Homo sapiens: one gene and its partner. The main gene of each other region encodes a partner of the protein of the gene in region 2 in a complex. Each region holds a gene or a part of one and is shown on either strand. Other genes may lie near its edges. A codon is read from its position in the direction of its gene.

Region 1 (7,402 bases), on a different chromosome or scaffold from region 2:
TTGTGCAGGTTCTTCAGTCGGGGTGGCAGGTTGTCCCGAATCATCTTCATGGCTTTGAGGGGTGGCTCGTTGAAGTAGGGGGGCTCTCCGTCCACCATCTCAATCACCATTATCCCCAGCGACCAGATGTCTACCTGGGGCGGGAGAAGGGACAGCAGGGCTGAGCTGTTGGGGGATGGTGGGTCCTGGGGAGGCCTCAGGCAGGGACCGCTCCAGCGCTGTCTCTGCCTCTGGCTCCTGGAGTCCTTGGCCCAGAACTCCCTCTTGGGCACCCAGCCAGCAGTCCACAGAGCACTAGTCCTCCAGGGAGCCCCTCAAGAGAGCTGCCCCCCCAGCACCCACCCCTCTTCTTTCTGTCAACTGCCCCCAGGTGTCCTCCCTCCCTCAGCCCAGGTAGCATCCACTGGTGGGTTCAGGACCCATGCGGCCTCATCACCACAGTGGAGACACAGTGATTGGTTCAGAAACAGGCACAGGACCCAGGCTGAGCCAATCAGAGCCAACCTGGGGACTTTACCCAAAACACCCAGGGAAAAAGAGGAGCCCATAGGTGGGAGACACTTCCCAGAGCTGCCGGGACCAGCTCTGCTCCCACAAGGGGAAAGCCGGCCTGTGAAAACAATGCTCAGAAGGCAGAGCCAAGGCTGGGCGCGGTGGCTCACATCTGTAATCCCAGCACTTTAGGAGGCCAAGGCGGATAGATCACCTGAGGTCAGGAGTTCAAGACCAACCTGGCCAACATGGTGAAACCCCCATCTCTACTAATACAAAAATTAGCCAGGCATGGTGGCGGGTGCCTGTAAAACCAGCTTCTCGGGAGGCTGAGGCAGGAGAATCGCTTGAACCCGGGAGGTGGAGGTTGCAGTGAGCTGAGATTGCACCACTGCACTCCAGCCTGGGCAACAGAGCGAGACTCCATCTCAAAAAAAAAAAAGAAGAATGAATACATGCATGCCTGCAGTACCTCCTTGTCCAGAGCACCATTCCTGGCAATGACTCCCCAGACTGGGCCCCATCTCCCGCCAGCGCTGCAGCTGGAAAATGGCAGCGTACGCTGTCCACGGCGGGACAACCAAGCCACCCCGGGGCTCACCTCTGGCCCGTAGGGAAGGCGGGAGATGAGCTCTGGGGCCATCCAGTAGGGCGTGCCGACCAGCGACTTCCTTCGGGGCACTTCCTTGCTCACCTGGGCGCAGAACCCAAAGTCTGACAGCTTCACCTGGGACAGGGCAGAGGCAGTGGGGTCAGAGGAGCTGGCACAGCAGGAGGGCGAGCAGGGGCGTCTGCCTGCGTCATTCCTTGGCTTCAGACACAATGTGCGGCCCAGAGGTCAGAGCTGGGGTCTAGGGTCAGAGCTGGGGTCTAGAGCCAGACCAATGGGGAGCTCCACCACCTCCTGGTGGGGGCCCTCGGGCAAGTCACCTCCCCCACGATCCCCCCATTTCCCTCCCTGACAGCCTCTGGGGCTTTTGGGGACACTGGCCTGAGTACTGCAGATAGCAAAGGCAGGGCCGGAGCTGGGAACAGGGGTGGCCCCAAAAGCCTGTGCCCTGGGGCCCTGCTGCCCTGGAACAAGTCTTTAGTTCGGTTGGAGCAGAAAGTAGCCCTGCACTAGGGCCGTGAGGGGACACAGCCTGCCTTTGCGACAACCAGGCCTCTCACACCTTCTTAGGAACTGTGGGTCCCTTTCCGATTTTTGAGGATTTCTATGGGTCTTCCTGCCTCCAGCAAACATCCCCACAACCGTGTGTGGACAATCTCAGGTGGCCCATAGACATCGCCCCCAAAACACATCTATAGACATCTGGAGATTTTCAGACTGTCAGTGACACAGAGCTCTCTCTGCCTCTGCCTGGACTAATGGTGTGGCTTAATCTTCCTTGGGGGAGGGGATGGAGTCATCCACTTCTGCAAGCATTTCATTCAAGTCAAGGGCCCTCTCTCACAGAAAATCATGTCCACCCGACGTTATAATTGTCACAGCCTCAGATTTGGAACCTCAGTCCAAAGCATGGAAGACAGGACTGGGGTCCATGGACCGCCCTGGGTGCTGGGCAGGGAGCAGCTTTTCAGTGGAGGAAGAAGCCTGTGGCGGGGGCTGCGCTGTCTGCCCAGATCCCTGCCCCTGGGCCCAGTGTCCTGTGCTGATGGCAGAGCCCCCGCCAGCCTGTGCCCTCCCACTGCACAGAGTCCCCACTGAGCTGGAACCTGACTCTGGGCTGCTCCACCAGGGAGGGACGAAGTTCCCAGCTCCTCAAGACACAGACCTGGGGGTCAGAGCTCACCTACCCTCACAGGGGATGGGAAGAGGCAGGGAAGCCCCGCAGCCGGAAACCTGCCGCCCCCGTACCCCGCCGCCCGTCCCCTCACCCTGCCATCATGGGTCAGCAGGATCGAGTCGCTCTTGATGTCCCGGTGGATGACGCCCTGGGCGTGGAGCACCGACAGGGCCTGCAGCACTGCAAGGCACACGGCCGCGATCTGCTCCTCGTTCATCCTGCGGGGTGGGGTGGGGGGTGAGCAGCCAGCTGGACAGCACCCCGGGGTGCCGAGGGGGACGCAGCCCTGCCTTGCAGTGGGAGGAATCTGAGACCACTCGACCCCACTCTGGAGTGGGAGGAATGGAAGACACGACCCCATCCCAGGGGCCCGGAGCACAGCTGGTTTGGAGATGTGGCCCCACCCCTAGTGGTCTGGAGGGGACTTGGTCGTGTCACAGGAGGGGTCTGAGGCCCCAGAAATACCTGGTGTGGGTGACGATGTCGGTGAGGGCGCCTCCTTCCAGGAACTCCATGACCACCCAGAGCTCGTCCCCCACCAGGTAGCTGTTGTACATCTCCACCACATTCTCGTGCTGGTAGTCCCTCATGATTACCACCTGTGCAGGGGCTGGGTCAGTGGTGGAGGGAGGCGGGAGGGCTGCCAGTGCCAGACCCAGCCACCGCCACCCCCCTGGCTCCCCCTGCAGTTCCACATTAAGCTTGTGCTCACTGGGGCCACCTGGACTGCCCTCCCCTACTGCCACAGCCACGTGGGCCTCAGAGCCAGCTTGAAGCCCACGCCTCCCTTCTGGGGGCGCGCCCCCCTGGGCACACGCCCATCTCAGGTCAGTCCTGGGCTAGTGCTGGGGGGCAGGTGGGAAGAGAGCGTTCAATCACAGGGCTGAGACCCGGACAAGGGCAAGGATGAGAGAAGAGGCGTGTGTCGGCGGGAGGATGAGGAACCCAGGCGAGGAGCTCCATGGTGCAGCCCGGCACTGTGATGGGCAACGGGGTCGAGAGGGGCCTCACACACCCGGCAAAGGGACCTGGGCTTCCTATCGTCAGGGTGCTACGGGGCACTGCCAGGGTCTCTAAGGAGGGACGGGGAGGGGGTGGGCCTGAACGTCAGAAACATACTCTTGGTGGTTGTGTGGGCTGTGCCGAGGGACACCCAGGAGTGGAGGCCAGGGCGGGGCACAGGGAACCCAGGAGGGGCAGGTCTGGAGGACACTGTACCCTGGAGCCCAGGCGGGCCTCAGTGGGTGCGAGGGGCCTGGAAGACACTGGGTCGGGGGTCAGTGGCCCGAGGAACCCTGGGTCTGGGGCTCAGGGACAGAGATGTGGGTGAGGGTGCTGTGAGGACAGAGGCAGGGACCCAGCTGGGGCGGACGAGACGGCCTGGGGAGGGAGAAGAGTGAGGGGAGGAGGGGAGCCTGGCCCAGCACGGAGGAGTGCAGGGAGAGGAGGGAGGAGGGGAGGGAGGGTGGGAGGGAGGGGTGGGAGGACCAGCAGGGCGGCAGGGCAGCAGCGCCCGCACCTCGTTGAAGAGCAGCTCGCGCCTCTGCTGCTTGCGCAGGTCCATCTTCTTGACGGCCACCAGCTTGCCCGAGCTGCGCACGGTGGCGATGCACACGATGCCCGTGGAGCCCTCGCCAATCTTGATGAAGTTGTCCAGGTAGGAGCGGGGGTCGCCTGGGTCCACCACCAGCTGCAGGGCAGCCCGGAACTGCTCATGGGATACTCGCTGTGGCTCCCGCTGTGGTGAGCGGGGGCCAGGGGGCCCAGGAACAGCAGGGGCGGCGGGGGTGCAGGCTGGAGGGGCCAGCTGGGGCTCTGAGGCGTGGGGTCCCAGCACTCCAGGGCTGGGGGCACCTCGGGCTCGGGTGGGAGGCCGGGAGGAGGAGGAGGAGGACTGGGGGATGGCCAGGCCCCCCGCTGATGGCCCGTTAGGGGCCACGTCATGAGGCTCCCCCTGAAACAGAAGAGAGGTAGCTGTCAGTGATGGGTGCCAGGGAGCAGCTCTGCTCCCTAAGCAGGAGAGAGACCCAGCGATGGGACAGACACATGGGTGGTCAGGATGAGATGCACGGTGGTGGGGCGGGGCTGGAAGGTGGGGACAGAGGAGCAACGGGCAGGGGACAGTGGGGGCCCTGGGGCGGGGGATGGGTTACCTGGGCACCCCGGGATGGGTGGTCCGTGTCAGCCCTCGGGTAGGTGTTAAAGGGCCGGCCAGCTGCCAGTTTCGCCCCACTGGCCAGACCAGCAGGCTGGGGGGTGCCGACATCAGGCCCGGAGAGGGGGCGTTTGTCCCGGGAGGACTCCTGGGGACCCCCTGAGCCCTCCCTGGAAGACTTGGGCCTCTTCTCTGGCCCCGCCCGTCGCCTGTCACCACTGCCGCCACCCGCCTCGCTGTGACCGGCGAACCGGCCTCGGCTGCCTGCCTTCCCTGGGCCCCCTCTGGCCGTGGTGGCCGGCTCCTCTGGCATCCCATTTTCCTGGCGGGCACGGGCGGGCGGCGGCGGGCTGTCTCTCCGCAGGGAGTTGGAGCGTGTCACCGACATGTTCTCAAACTCGTCCAGCAGCAGCGTGAGGGCCCCATCTTTGGCACCTTTGCTGCCCCGCACGATGGTCTGGGGTCCCAGGCAATGGTGGGTGGGGGCCCAGCAAGGAGTGGGGCACACAGGACGTGCATCCGACACGCAGGGACAGGACAGCACGACACACACAGAGACAAGACAGAGACGCAATGAAGAGATGCCATGGAGTGACAATGGCATGGGCAGTGCAGCCCCTCCCCTCCCTGGGGACACAGCTGCAGGGGCCAGAGGAGTGATCGCCATGGCCAGGCTGCTGCCCCCTGGGCTCGGTGGGACCCTGGAGAGGCCCCCCTTGTTTTTCTCCTGTTCCTCACACTGGTGGAATAGTCCTGCCCTGAGGGGTTTGGGGGAGGAAGGGCAGAAATTGACCCACCCCATAATCAGCCCCGAGGGCTGCAAATGACAGGGCGCTGGGGCCAGGGCCTGGCCTGGCACTTCCTCCCATGTGGGCGCCAGTGTTCCTTAGCCCCAAAACCACACTCTCTGCTCCCATGAACAACAAGGAGTGGGGGACAGGGAGAGTCAGAAAGGCCTGGTCCCAAAGTAGAGGGCAAGGGGGTCCCAGGAGCCGGGTGGCAAATGCAAATGCAGATGGGGACCAGGCAGAGCATCCAGTGCATCCCGAGTCACCCGGTCCCCACCCTCTGTGGTCTGAGTCGTGTCCTGCAGGCCCCCTCTGCCCCCGTTCCATTTCCAGACACACGGGTGTCTCCCCCACCCCCGCCCCCCTGCGCCCAGGGCCTCTCCGCTGGCGGCTCCCTCTGCCTGGAACATCAGCTCTCAGGGTCCCTGTGGCTCCCTCCCTCCACTCCTTCAGGTCTTTGCTCAAAACTCAGCTTCTCAGTGAGGCTTCTGCTGGCCTCCCATCATCTAAAATGCCAGCCCCTGCCCTCCCCGGCCCCTGCCCTGCCTGCATTCTACCTAGAGCACCTAACAGCAGCTGATACAGAGCACACAGGCATCTGTCTGCTCCCGGCTCTGCCTAGTGCATGCTCTGGGCAGGGATTGTTTTTTCCTGTCTGCTTCGGGTCCTGCTCCATCTCAGCACCTAGACCAGCATCTGGCGCACAGCAGGGGCTCAGTGAACTTTTGCTAAACCACGTAGTGAGTGAGGTGTCTGTGCAAAGGCCACAGTGAGCTGAGAACGTGGGCCCTGCTGACAAGGACCCTGCCCGGGGCTGCCAGATGTCCTCCAGCCGGAGGCCTGCCTCTAATGTGTGGAAAACACTGATCCCACGAAACCCGGACCCTGCCTGGGGCTGCCAGGCATCCTCCAGCCAGAGGCCTGCCTGTAACGTGTAGAAAACACTGATCCCACAAAATCCGTGGTCTGCCGCTGCCCTGTCTCTCCTGGCCGTGGCTGTCTGCCTGAAGCCGGGCCTTGCCCAGGGGCCCCAGGAAGTCAAGGTGGACACAAGGCCAGACTTTGCTGTTAGAACAGGGCGTTGAGGCAAGAAGCAGTGGCTCACGCCTATAATCCCAGCACCTCGGGAGGCTGAGGATCACCTGAGGTCAGGAGTTTGAGACCAGCCTGGCCAAAATGGCGAAAACCCGTCTCTACTAAAAATACAAAAATTAGATGGGCATAGTGGTGGGCGCCTGTAATCCCAGCTACGCGGGAGGCTGAGGCAGGAAAATCGCTTGAACCCAGGAGGCGAAGGTTGCATGAGCCGAGGTGGCGCCACTGCACTCCAGCCAGGGAGACAGAGCAGGAATGTCTCTCAAAAAAAAAAAAAAAAAAACCAACAGGGAGTCGAGAAGGTCCTGGGAGGCCTGAGGCCCGGTCAAGGGCAGCAAACACAAGTGCCTATGGGGCCCCAGGACAGTGCTGGCCACAAGGCCCCATGTGTGAATTCAAGTGCCCTGCCTCCTGCTGGGACAGTCACAGGCAGGCCTCACATCTGGCAAGCCAGGCAGGGGCTGGGTTTTTGGAGACACCTTGGTGGGGGCAAAGCCTACATGCAAGTGGCCACAGAGCCAGGCAGGGCGTGGAGCTGAGGTGGGTCGGGTGCGGCCTGTGGCCCAGAAGAGCCAGTGCCCTGCCCGTGGAGGCAGCTGCCACTCGCCTCCAGCTGGTCTGTCACCAGATGCCAGAAACGGCTTTGGAAGTGAAGTCTGTCACTTTCTCAGTGGAGGCAAAGAAGTCAAAGCATTCAAAAGCACCCTGCAAGGACCACACGGACCCCTCAGTGGGCTACCACATTGAGGCTGCACTTGTGTCTATGGCCAACTTGTGGGCCTTGGGGCTTCTCCCCGCCAGGCTGGGCTGGGCACCGGGAGGGTGAGTCCCCAGGCACACCCATCTCCACCCGCTGGATGCAAACCTGGCCGAGTTCCCCTTGGCCTGCGGCCCCTCCTGGTCCCCACTGACCATGGGAGAGAGTCCAGGCTCCAAGGCTGGCTTCAGAGGCCCAGCACGGGCTCAGGCCAGGCCAGCCTCATGCCAGGCCACACCCAGACACCGGCTCCACAACTCTTATGATTTCACATGGAGGCAGCAGAGGGGTTAAGAGCACGGGCCTTGGAAACAGACATTGGTTCAAA
Region 2 (7,402 bases):
ACAAAAAAAAGACCCAAAGCGAGAGAAGGGGCTGTTTGCTCAGCCACTGGGGACCTCCGCCCCATGGGATCAGCCCTCTCTCTGCTTTGGGGGTTTGGAGAGTCCTCGATACCTGTTGCTACCTAGACACCCCCTGGGGGGAAAACGGGCCCCAGACTCCCCATTTGGTTCCTGGGAACACAGACACCTGGAACTTGGCCTCTGCCCTGATGTGCGCCCTCCCACGCACCCAAGCGTTATATGGGGCATGGTTCGGAGGCTGCCTCCTGGCCCAGCCTCCAGGGAGCTATGGACCAGACAGGTGGAGCGTGAACAGGGTTGCTGGGGCAGCGGCGTGTGGAAAGGGGCGTAACTCACACAGGCCCTCCAGCTCATGCAAGGAGAAGCAAGAGGGGACAGCCCTGCCAAGACAGAGGTTACAGCAGGGCGAGAGCATGGTGTGTGTGTGCAGCTGGGCCGGCTCTGGGCCACGGCAGAGAGAAGGCAGGGGAAGCGGTCCACGGGGTGGGAGAAGGCAAGTCAGGGCCTGGCTCTGAGGAGAAGCCTGGGTCCCCACTGTCCCAGCTGAGGGCCACCTCCCGCGGAGGAATCTGGTGGGGGTGGATTCTCCAGAGGTGGGGACAGGGGCAGCTGAGTGGCCCTGGCTCAGTCGGGGACCTCAGGGTGGGCAGGCAGTCCGCTCTCGCCGCGCCGGTAGGTCTCCCAGAAACCTCTGTCCAGCTGCTCCAGCTGTGGGCCCAGTGGCAGGTGGCCGGCCAGGTGCATGCGGAGGGTCTCCAGCCAGTGTTCCAGCTTCACAAAGGATGGCCTGGGTGACAGGTGGGTGGGGAACGGTGGGTCTGGCTGTCCCGGGAATCGGCCCCACCGTCTCCCAGGCCAGGGCCCCACCCCACTCACCTCTTCTCGGGGTCCAGATCGCAACAGCGCACGGTGATGGGGAAGAAGCTCGGGGGGCAGTTTGGGGGGCAGTAGCGGTCCAGGAATCCTCGCACGTTGAGGCCAAAGTCCATGGTGCGGGGCAGGTAGTCAGGGTCTGCGTTCACCCGCCCGATGATCTGTCCAGTACAAGGCCCGGCAGTTACTCCAGGGGGCCCTCAGCCTGGGCATCTGGGTGCCATCCAGGTGGTTTGAGGGCAGGTGGCACTGGGCCTGGCTGCAGCCTGACTGCAGTACCCCATGGGGGCCAGCCCATGCCTTGCTGTGGGCAGGCTTCCTGGCATGAGGCCCCTGCAGATGCTGAGCCTGCAGCCTGGGTGAGTGGGGAGGAGCCCAGGCCTCAACACCGCTGCTACCCAACCCTGGACCTACCTCGCACAGGACGATCCCAAAGGAGAACACATCCACCTTCTCATCATAGCTGCGGCCTGGATAAAGAGACCGACTGTCAGCAGATGAACACATGGGGGTGCCAGGGATGCCAAAAGGCAGGGGACCAGGCCAGCTGGGAGGATGCCCCGGCCGGGAGGTCCAGGCCCAGGAGGCAGATGCCGGCAACCTCTATGGGAACCCAGGCTTAGGCTCTTTCCCCCAACCCCACCAGGTCTGAGCAAGCCTTTGGGAGCTCTGAGGAGCAAGGGGCAGAGCCCTGGACAAGGAGTTCGAGGCACCGATCAGCTGCGTGACTTTGCACAAGTCATGAACTCTGTGCTGGTCCCAAAAGGGAACCATGTCAGGTCTCTGGAATCTGTGAATGTTACTGGGTCAGAAAAAGGGTCTTTTGCAGATGGGATTAAGTTAAGGATCTGGAGATGAGATGATGCTGGATGATCTGGGTGGGCCCCAAATGCCACTGCAAATGCCCTCTTGAGAGAGACACAGAGAAGACACAGCAGAAGAGGAGGAGGTGGCCCTGTGAAGACAGGGGTGGAGACTGGAGTGATGCGGCCACAAGCCCAGGAATGCAAAACAACCAGAAGGTGGAAGAGGCAAGGAATGCATTCTCCCCTAGATCGCCCTGGAGGGAGCGCAGCCCTGTTGGATTTCAACCTTCTGGCTTCCAAAACTAAGAGGGAATAAATTTCTGCTGTTTATTTTATCTTGAGATGGAGTCTTGCTTTGTTGTCCAGGCAAGAGTGCAGTGGTACGATTGTGGCTCACTGCAACCTCTGCCTCCTGGGTTCAAGCGATTCTCCTGCCTCAATTTCCCGAGTAGCTGGGATTACAGGCGCCTGCCACCATGCCCAGCTAATTTTTGTACTTTTAGTAGAGATGGTGTTTCACCATGTTGGCCAGGCTGGTCTCGAACTCCTGACCTCCAGTGATCTGCCCGCCTCGGCCTCCCAAAGTGCTGGGATTACAGGTGTGAGCCACTGTGCCTGACCATTTTCTGCTGTTTTAAATAATCAAGTTTCTAACAATTTATTACAGCAACCTCAGGAAACTGACACAGACTCTCTGAGCCTCAGTTTCCTTATTGTAAAATGGGAATGATACCAGCTACTTAATGATGTTAAAAATAATCGGTACATGGCCGGGCACAGTGGTTCACACCTGTAATCCCAGCACTTTGGGAGGCCGAGGCGGGTGGATCACCTGAGGTCAGGAGTTCAAGATCAGCCTGGCCAACATGGTGAAACCCCATCTCTACTAAAAATAGAAAAATTAGCCAGGCATGGTGGCAGGTGCCTGTAATCCCAGCTACTAGGGAAACTGAGGCAGGAGAATCACTTGAACCCAGGAGGTGGAGGTTGCAGTGAGCCGAGATCACGCCACTGTACTCCAGCCTGGGTGACAATGCAAGACTCCATCTCAAAAACAAAAAACTGGCCGGGCACGGTGGCTCACACCTGTAATCCCAGCACTTTGGGAGGCTGAGGCGGGTGGATCACGAGGTCAGGAGATCGAGATCATGGTGAAACCCCGTCTCTACTAAAAATACAAAAAATTAGCCAGGCGTGGTGGCGGGCGCCTGTAGTCCCAGCTACGTGGGAGGCTGAGGCAGGAGAATGGTGTGAACCCGGGAGGCGGAGCTTGCAGTGAGCCGAGATCGCACCATGCATTCTAGCCTGGATGACAGAGCAAGACTCGGTCTCAGAAAAAACAAAAAACAAAAAACAAAAAACAAAATACCCGAAACAATTAGTACTAAATGTCAATTCTCATTTACTGAATGCCAACTAGGTGGAAATGAGTTTACAACCTTTAATCCTCACACTAATCCCTAAACATAGGAAACACTAAGACTTTTTTGTTTTTTGAGACAGAGTCTTGCTCTGTCGCCCACTGCAACCTCTGCCTCCTGGGTTCAAGCAACTCTCCTGCCTCTGCCTCCTGGGTTCAAGCAACTCTCCTGCCTCAGCCTCCTGAGTAGCTGGGATTACGGGCGCCCGAAACCATGTCCAGCTAATTTTTGTATTTTTAGTAGAGATGGGGTTTCACTGTGTTGGCCAGGCTGGTCTCAAACTCCTGACCTCATGATCCACCTGCCTCGGCCTCCCAAAGTGCTGGGATTACAAGCGTGAACCACTGCGCCCGGCCACTAAGACTGTTTTATAGTCTTCTTTGCGGGCTATGTTAACTCTGTGTGTGTGTGTGTGTGTGTGTGTGTGTGTGTGTGTGTGTGTGTGTGTTTGACACAGAGTCCCACTCTGTCGTCAGGCTGGAGTACAGTGGTGCGATCTCGGCTCACTGCAAGCTCCGCCTCCTGGGTTCACATCATTCTCCTGCCTCAGCCTCCCGGGTAGCTGGGACTACAGACGCGTGCAACCACGCCCAGCTAATTTTTTTGTATTTTTAGTAGAGATGGGGTTTCATCATGTTGACCAGGATGGTCTCAATCTCTTGACCTCGTGATCCGCCCACCTCAGCCTCCCAAAGTGCTGGGATTACAGGAAGGTTTTTTTTTTTTTCTTTTTGAGACACAGTCTTCCTCTGTTGCCCAGGCTGGAGTGCAGTGGTGCAATCTTGGCCCAATGTAACCTCTGCTCCTGGGTTCAAGTGATTCTCCTGCCTCAGCCTCCCTAGTAGCTGTGCCACCACACCCGGGTAATTTTTGTATTTTCAGTAGAGACAGCGTTTCACCATGTTGGCCAGGCTGGTCTCGAACTCCTGGCCTCAAGCAATCCGCCTGCTTCAGCCTCCCAAAGTGCTGGAATTACAGGTGTGAGCCACTGTGCCTGGCCTATTTTTTGTTTTCTTGAGACAGGGTCTCACTCCGTTGCCCAGGCTAGAAGGCAGTGGTATGATCATAGCTCACTGCAGCCTTGATCTCCTTGGCTCAAGTAAATCTCCCGCTTTGGCTTCCTGAGTAGCTGGGACCACAGGCATTAGGCACCACGCCACATGCCAGGCTAATTTAACTAGGTTAACTATGATGAGGTGATGGCTGGGGTCTGCCTGCCCTGAACCTGTGTTCATGTGTCACCTGCTTGTAGAAGGACTTTATAACCTATAATCTGGGCATATATAGGACCATTGACAGCAAAGAAATGGACTGAGGGAAGCAGACCCTGTGGGAGGCAGAACTATGATCCCCAAAGATGACTGCGTCCTGATCCCTGGGACTTGTATACGTCCCACCTTCCATCGGACTCTGCAGATGGGATTAAGTTGAGGGTCTTGAGATGGAGGGCTGCTTTTGGATTATCCAGGTGGGCCCAATGTCACCGTAAGGGTCCCTATCAGAAGGATGGAGGGCCATGGTGGCTCATGCCTGGAATCCCAGCACTTTGAAAGGTCAAGGCAGGAGGATCGCCTGAAGCCAGGAGTTTGAGACCAGCCTGGGCAACATAGTGATACCCCCGTCTCTATTAAAAATTTAAAAAATTGGCCAGGCGCGGTGGCTCACGCCTGTAATCCCAGCACTTTGGGAGGCCGAGACGGGCGGATCACGAGGTCAGGAGATCGACACCATCTTGGCTAACACGGTGAAACCCCGTTTCTACTAAAAATACAAAAAATTAGCCAGGCGTGTTGGCGGGCGCCTGTAGTCCCAGCTACTCGGGAGGCTGAGGCAGGAGAATGGCGTGAACCCAGGAGGCGGAGCTTGCAGTGAGCTGAGATCACGCCACTGCACTCTAGCCTGGGAGACACAGCGAGACTCTGTCTCAAAAAAAAATAAAAAATAAAAAATAAAAAAATTAGCTGGGTGTGGTGTTGCATGCCTGTGGTCCCAGCTATTCAGGAGGCTGGGGTGGGATGACAGTTTGAGCCCAGAAGGTTGAGGCTGCAGTGAGCTATGGTGGCACCACTGCACTCCAGCCTGAGTAACAGAGCGAGACCCTCTTTAAAAAAGAAAAAAAAAAGGAGGAAGGTTAGAGCCAGGGAAAGAGATGCGGGGATGGATGCAGAGATCAGAGAAGAGAAGATGCTTTGCAGCCAGCCCTGAAGACAGAGGAGGGGGCAGCAACAGGAGGAATGAGGAAGCCTCCACGAGCCAGAAAAGGTCAGGAAACAGGTGCCCCGGAGCCTGCAGAAGGAGCTCACCCTACCGGCGTCTTGATTTCAGCCCGGTGAGGCTGACGCTGGACTTCAGACTCCAGAACTGTATGATCATTTATTTAAGCCACTAAGTGTCTTCTATTTATTTATTTTTTGAGATGGAGTTTCGCTCGTCACCCAGGCTGGAGTGCAATGGCGCGATCTCGGCTCACTGCAACCTCTGCCTCCCAGGTTCAAGCGATTCTCCTGCCTCAGCTTCCCTAGTAGCTGGGATTACAGTACTACAGTACTGGGATTACACCCACCACCATGCCCAGCTAATTTTTGTATTTTTAGTAAAGAATGGGGGTTTCACCATGTTGGCTAGGCTGGTCTCCAACTACTGACCTCAGGTGATCCACTCACCTCAGCCTCCCAAAGTGCTGGGATTACAGGCGTGAGCCACCGTGCCTGGCTGCCACTAAGTGTGTTATAGGAGCAACAGGACCCACAGGGTAACTGAAGAGCCAAGGAGGCTGGGAGGGGCCAGGGGCTTGGGAGGTTACAGCTCTCCTGGGCTCCCCCATGGCTTCCCGTGAGGGCCATGATGGGCAGGGCTGAACCACTCACCGTTGATCATCTCAGGTGCCATCCAGTAGGGGTTGCCCACCACGGTGTAGCGCTTCTTGCGGTCTGGCTTCTTGAGGCTCCGCAGGCCCTCAGGCTGAGTCTTCTCGTCCACCATGAGACGCGCCAGCCCGAAGTCAGCCACCACCACATTCTTGTTCTGGGAAGGTGAAGCCGGGTCATGCTGGGACCCGATCCTAGTACTGCCCGCTTGGCCTGCCCCTCCCCAGGACCCCAAGCCAACCTGTAGACAGCCCAGAGAACATACCTCTGATACGCTGTATTGGCACAGGGTGGGGACCCCTTCCTTCCCCAAACCCATCCGCTCTTTGCAAATGGAGCTGCGGGAAGCACCTGAAGATAGCAGTGTGGCTTCCTCCCTCCCACCACACGCTGCACCCTCTGCCCCCTCCCCACCTGCTCCCCAGACCGTCGTGGCGGACCCACTGCTCCCTCCTGCAAGCGCTCCCTCCCACCTGCGGGGGCACTGATGCTGCTTTGTTTCGGAGAGAAGACAGGAATTCTTTTGTTTTTTTTTTCAGACGGAGTCTTGCTCTGTCACCCAGGCTGGAGCGCAGTGGCGCGATCTCGGCTCACTGCAACCTCCGCCTCCCAGGTTCAAGCGATTCTCCTGCCTCACCCTCCCGAGTAGCTGGGATTACAGGCGCCTGCCACCATGCCTGGCTAATTTTTGTATTTTTAGTAAAGACGGGTTTCACCATACTTGGCTAGGCAGGTTTCGAACTCCTGATCTCAGGTGATCCACCCACTGTGGCCTACCAAAGTGCTGGGATTACAGGTGTGAGCCACTGTGCCCATCAAGACAGGAATTTTGATTATAGACCCAGGTCCTGTGCTTGGCATGCCACCAGATTTACTATTTATTTAGGTTGATTGACTGATTGAGATAGGGTCTTGCTATGTTGCCCAGACTGGTCTTCAACTTCTGGCCTCAAGTGGTCCACCTGCCTCAGCCTTTCAAAGTGCTGGGATTACAGGAGTAAGCCACCATACCTGGCCCAATTTTATCTTTTTTTTTTTTTTTTTGAGTTGGAGTCTTGCTCTATTGCCCAGGTTGAAGTGCAGTGGCACGATCTCAGCTCACTGCAAGCTCTGCCTCCCAGGTTCACGCCATTCTCCTGCCTCAGCCTCCCAAGTAGCTGGGACTACAGGCGCCTGCCACCATGCCCAGCTAATTTTTTGTATTTTTAGTAGAGACGGGGTTTCACCGTGTTAGCCAGGATGGTCTCGATCTCCTGACCTCGTGATCCGCCCACGTCGGCCTCCCAAAGTGCTGGGATTACAGGCGTGAGCCACCGTGCCTGGCCTAATTTTATCTTGAATATTCCCAATAAGCAGGTGAGGTCTATGTTTTTTGCTTTTCGGGTTTGATTTTTTTTTTTTTTTTTTGAGGCAG

Evidence for each region.
Region 1: the proteins of LIMK1 (region 2) and PAK4 are in contact, whole or in part, in a crystal structure (PDB 6WLY), measured with the Homo sapiens proteins. Residues at the interface, in NP_002305.1 of Homo sapiens: Lys505 (codon at 6,043), Arg506 (codon at 6,040), Tyr507 (codon at 6,037), Thr508 (codon at 6,034), Val509 (codon at 6,031), Val510 (codon at 6,028), Gly511 (codon at 6,025); in NP_001014831.1 of Homo sapiens: Glu329, Gly330, Ser331, Gln358, Arg359, Leu362, Thr404, Asp440, Lys442, Ser443, Asp444, Phe461, Leu475, Val476, Gly477, Thr478, Pro479, Tyr480, Trp481, Met482, Glu507, Phe516, Pro520.

The regions. Positions count from the first base shown.
Region 1 is NC_000019.10:39,170,407-39,177,808, reverse strand, and holds part of PAK4 (serine/threonine-protein kinase PAK 4), read right to left. Parts: intron 4,892-7,402; coding exon 4,433-4,891; intron 4,234-4,432; coding exon 3,799-4,233; intron 2,879-3,798; coding exon 2,745-2,878; intron 2,498-2,744; coding exon 2,371-2,497; intron 1,220-2,370; coding exon 1,094-1,219; intron 135-1,093; coding exon 1-134. UniProt on the Homo sapiens protein: Serine/threonine-protein kinase that plays a role in a variety of different signaling pathways including cytoskeleton regulation, cell adhesion turnover, cell migration, growth, proliferation or cell survival.
Region 2 is NC_000007.14:74,114,545-74,121,946, reverse strand, and holds part of LIMK1 (LIM domain kinase 1), read right to left. Parts: intron 6,146-7,402; coding exon 5,989-6,145; intron 1,365-5,988; coding exon 1,309-1,364; intron 1,056-1,308; coding exon 898-1,055; intron 809-897; coding exon 646-808; 3' UTR 1-645. UniProt on the Homo sapiens protein: Serine/threonine-protein kinase that plays an essential role in the regulation of actin filament dynamics. Acts downstream of several Rho family GTPase signal transduction pathways.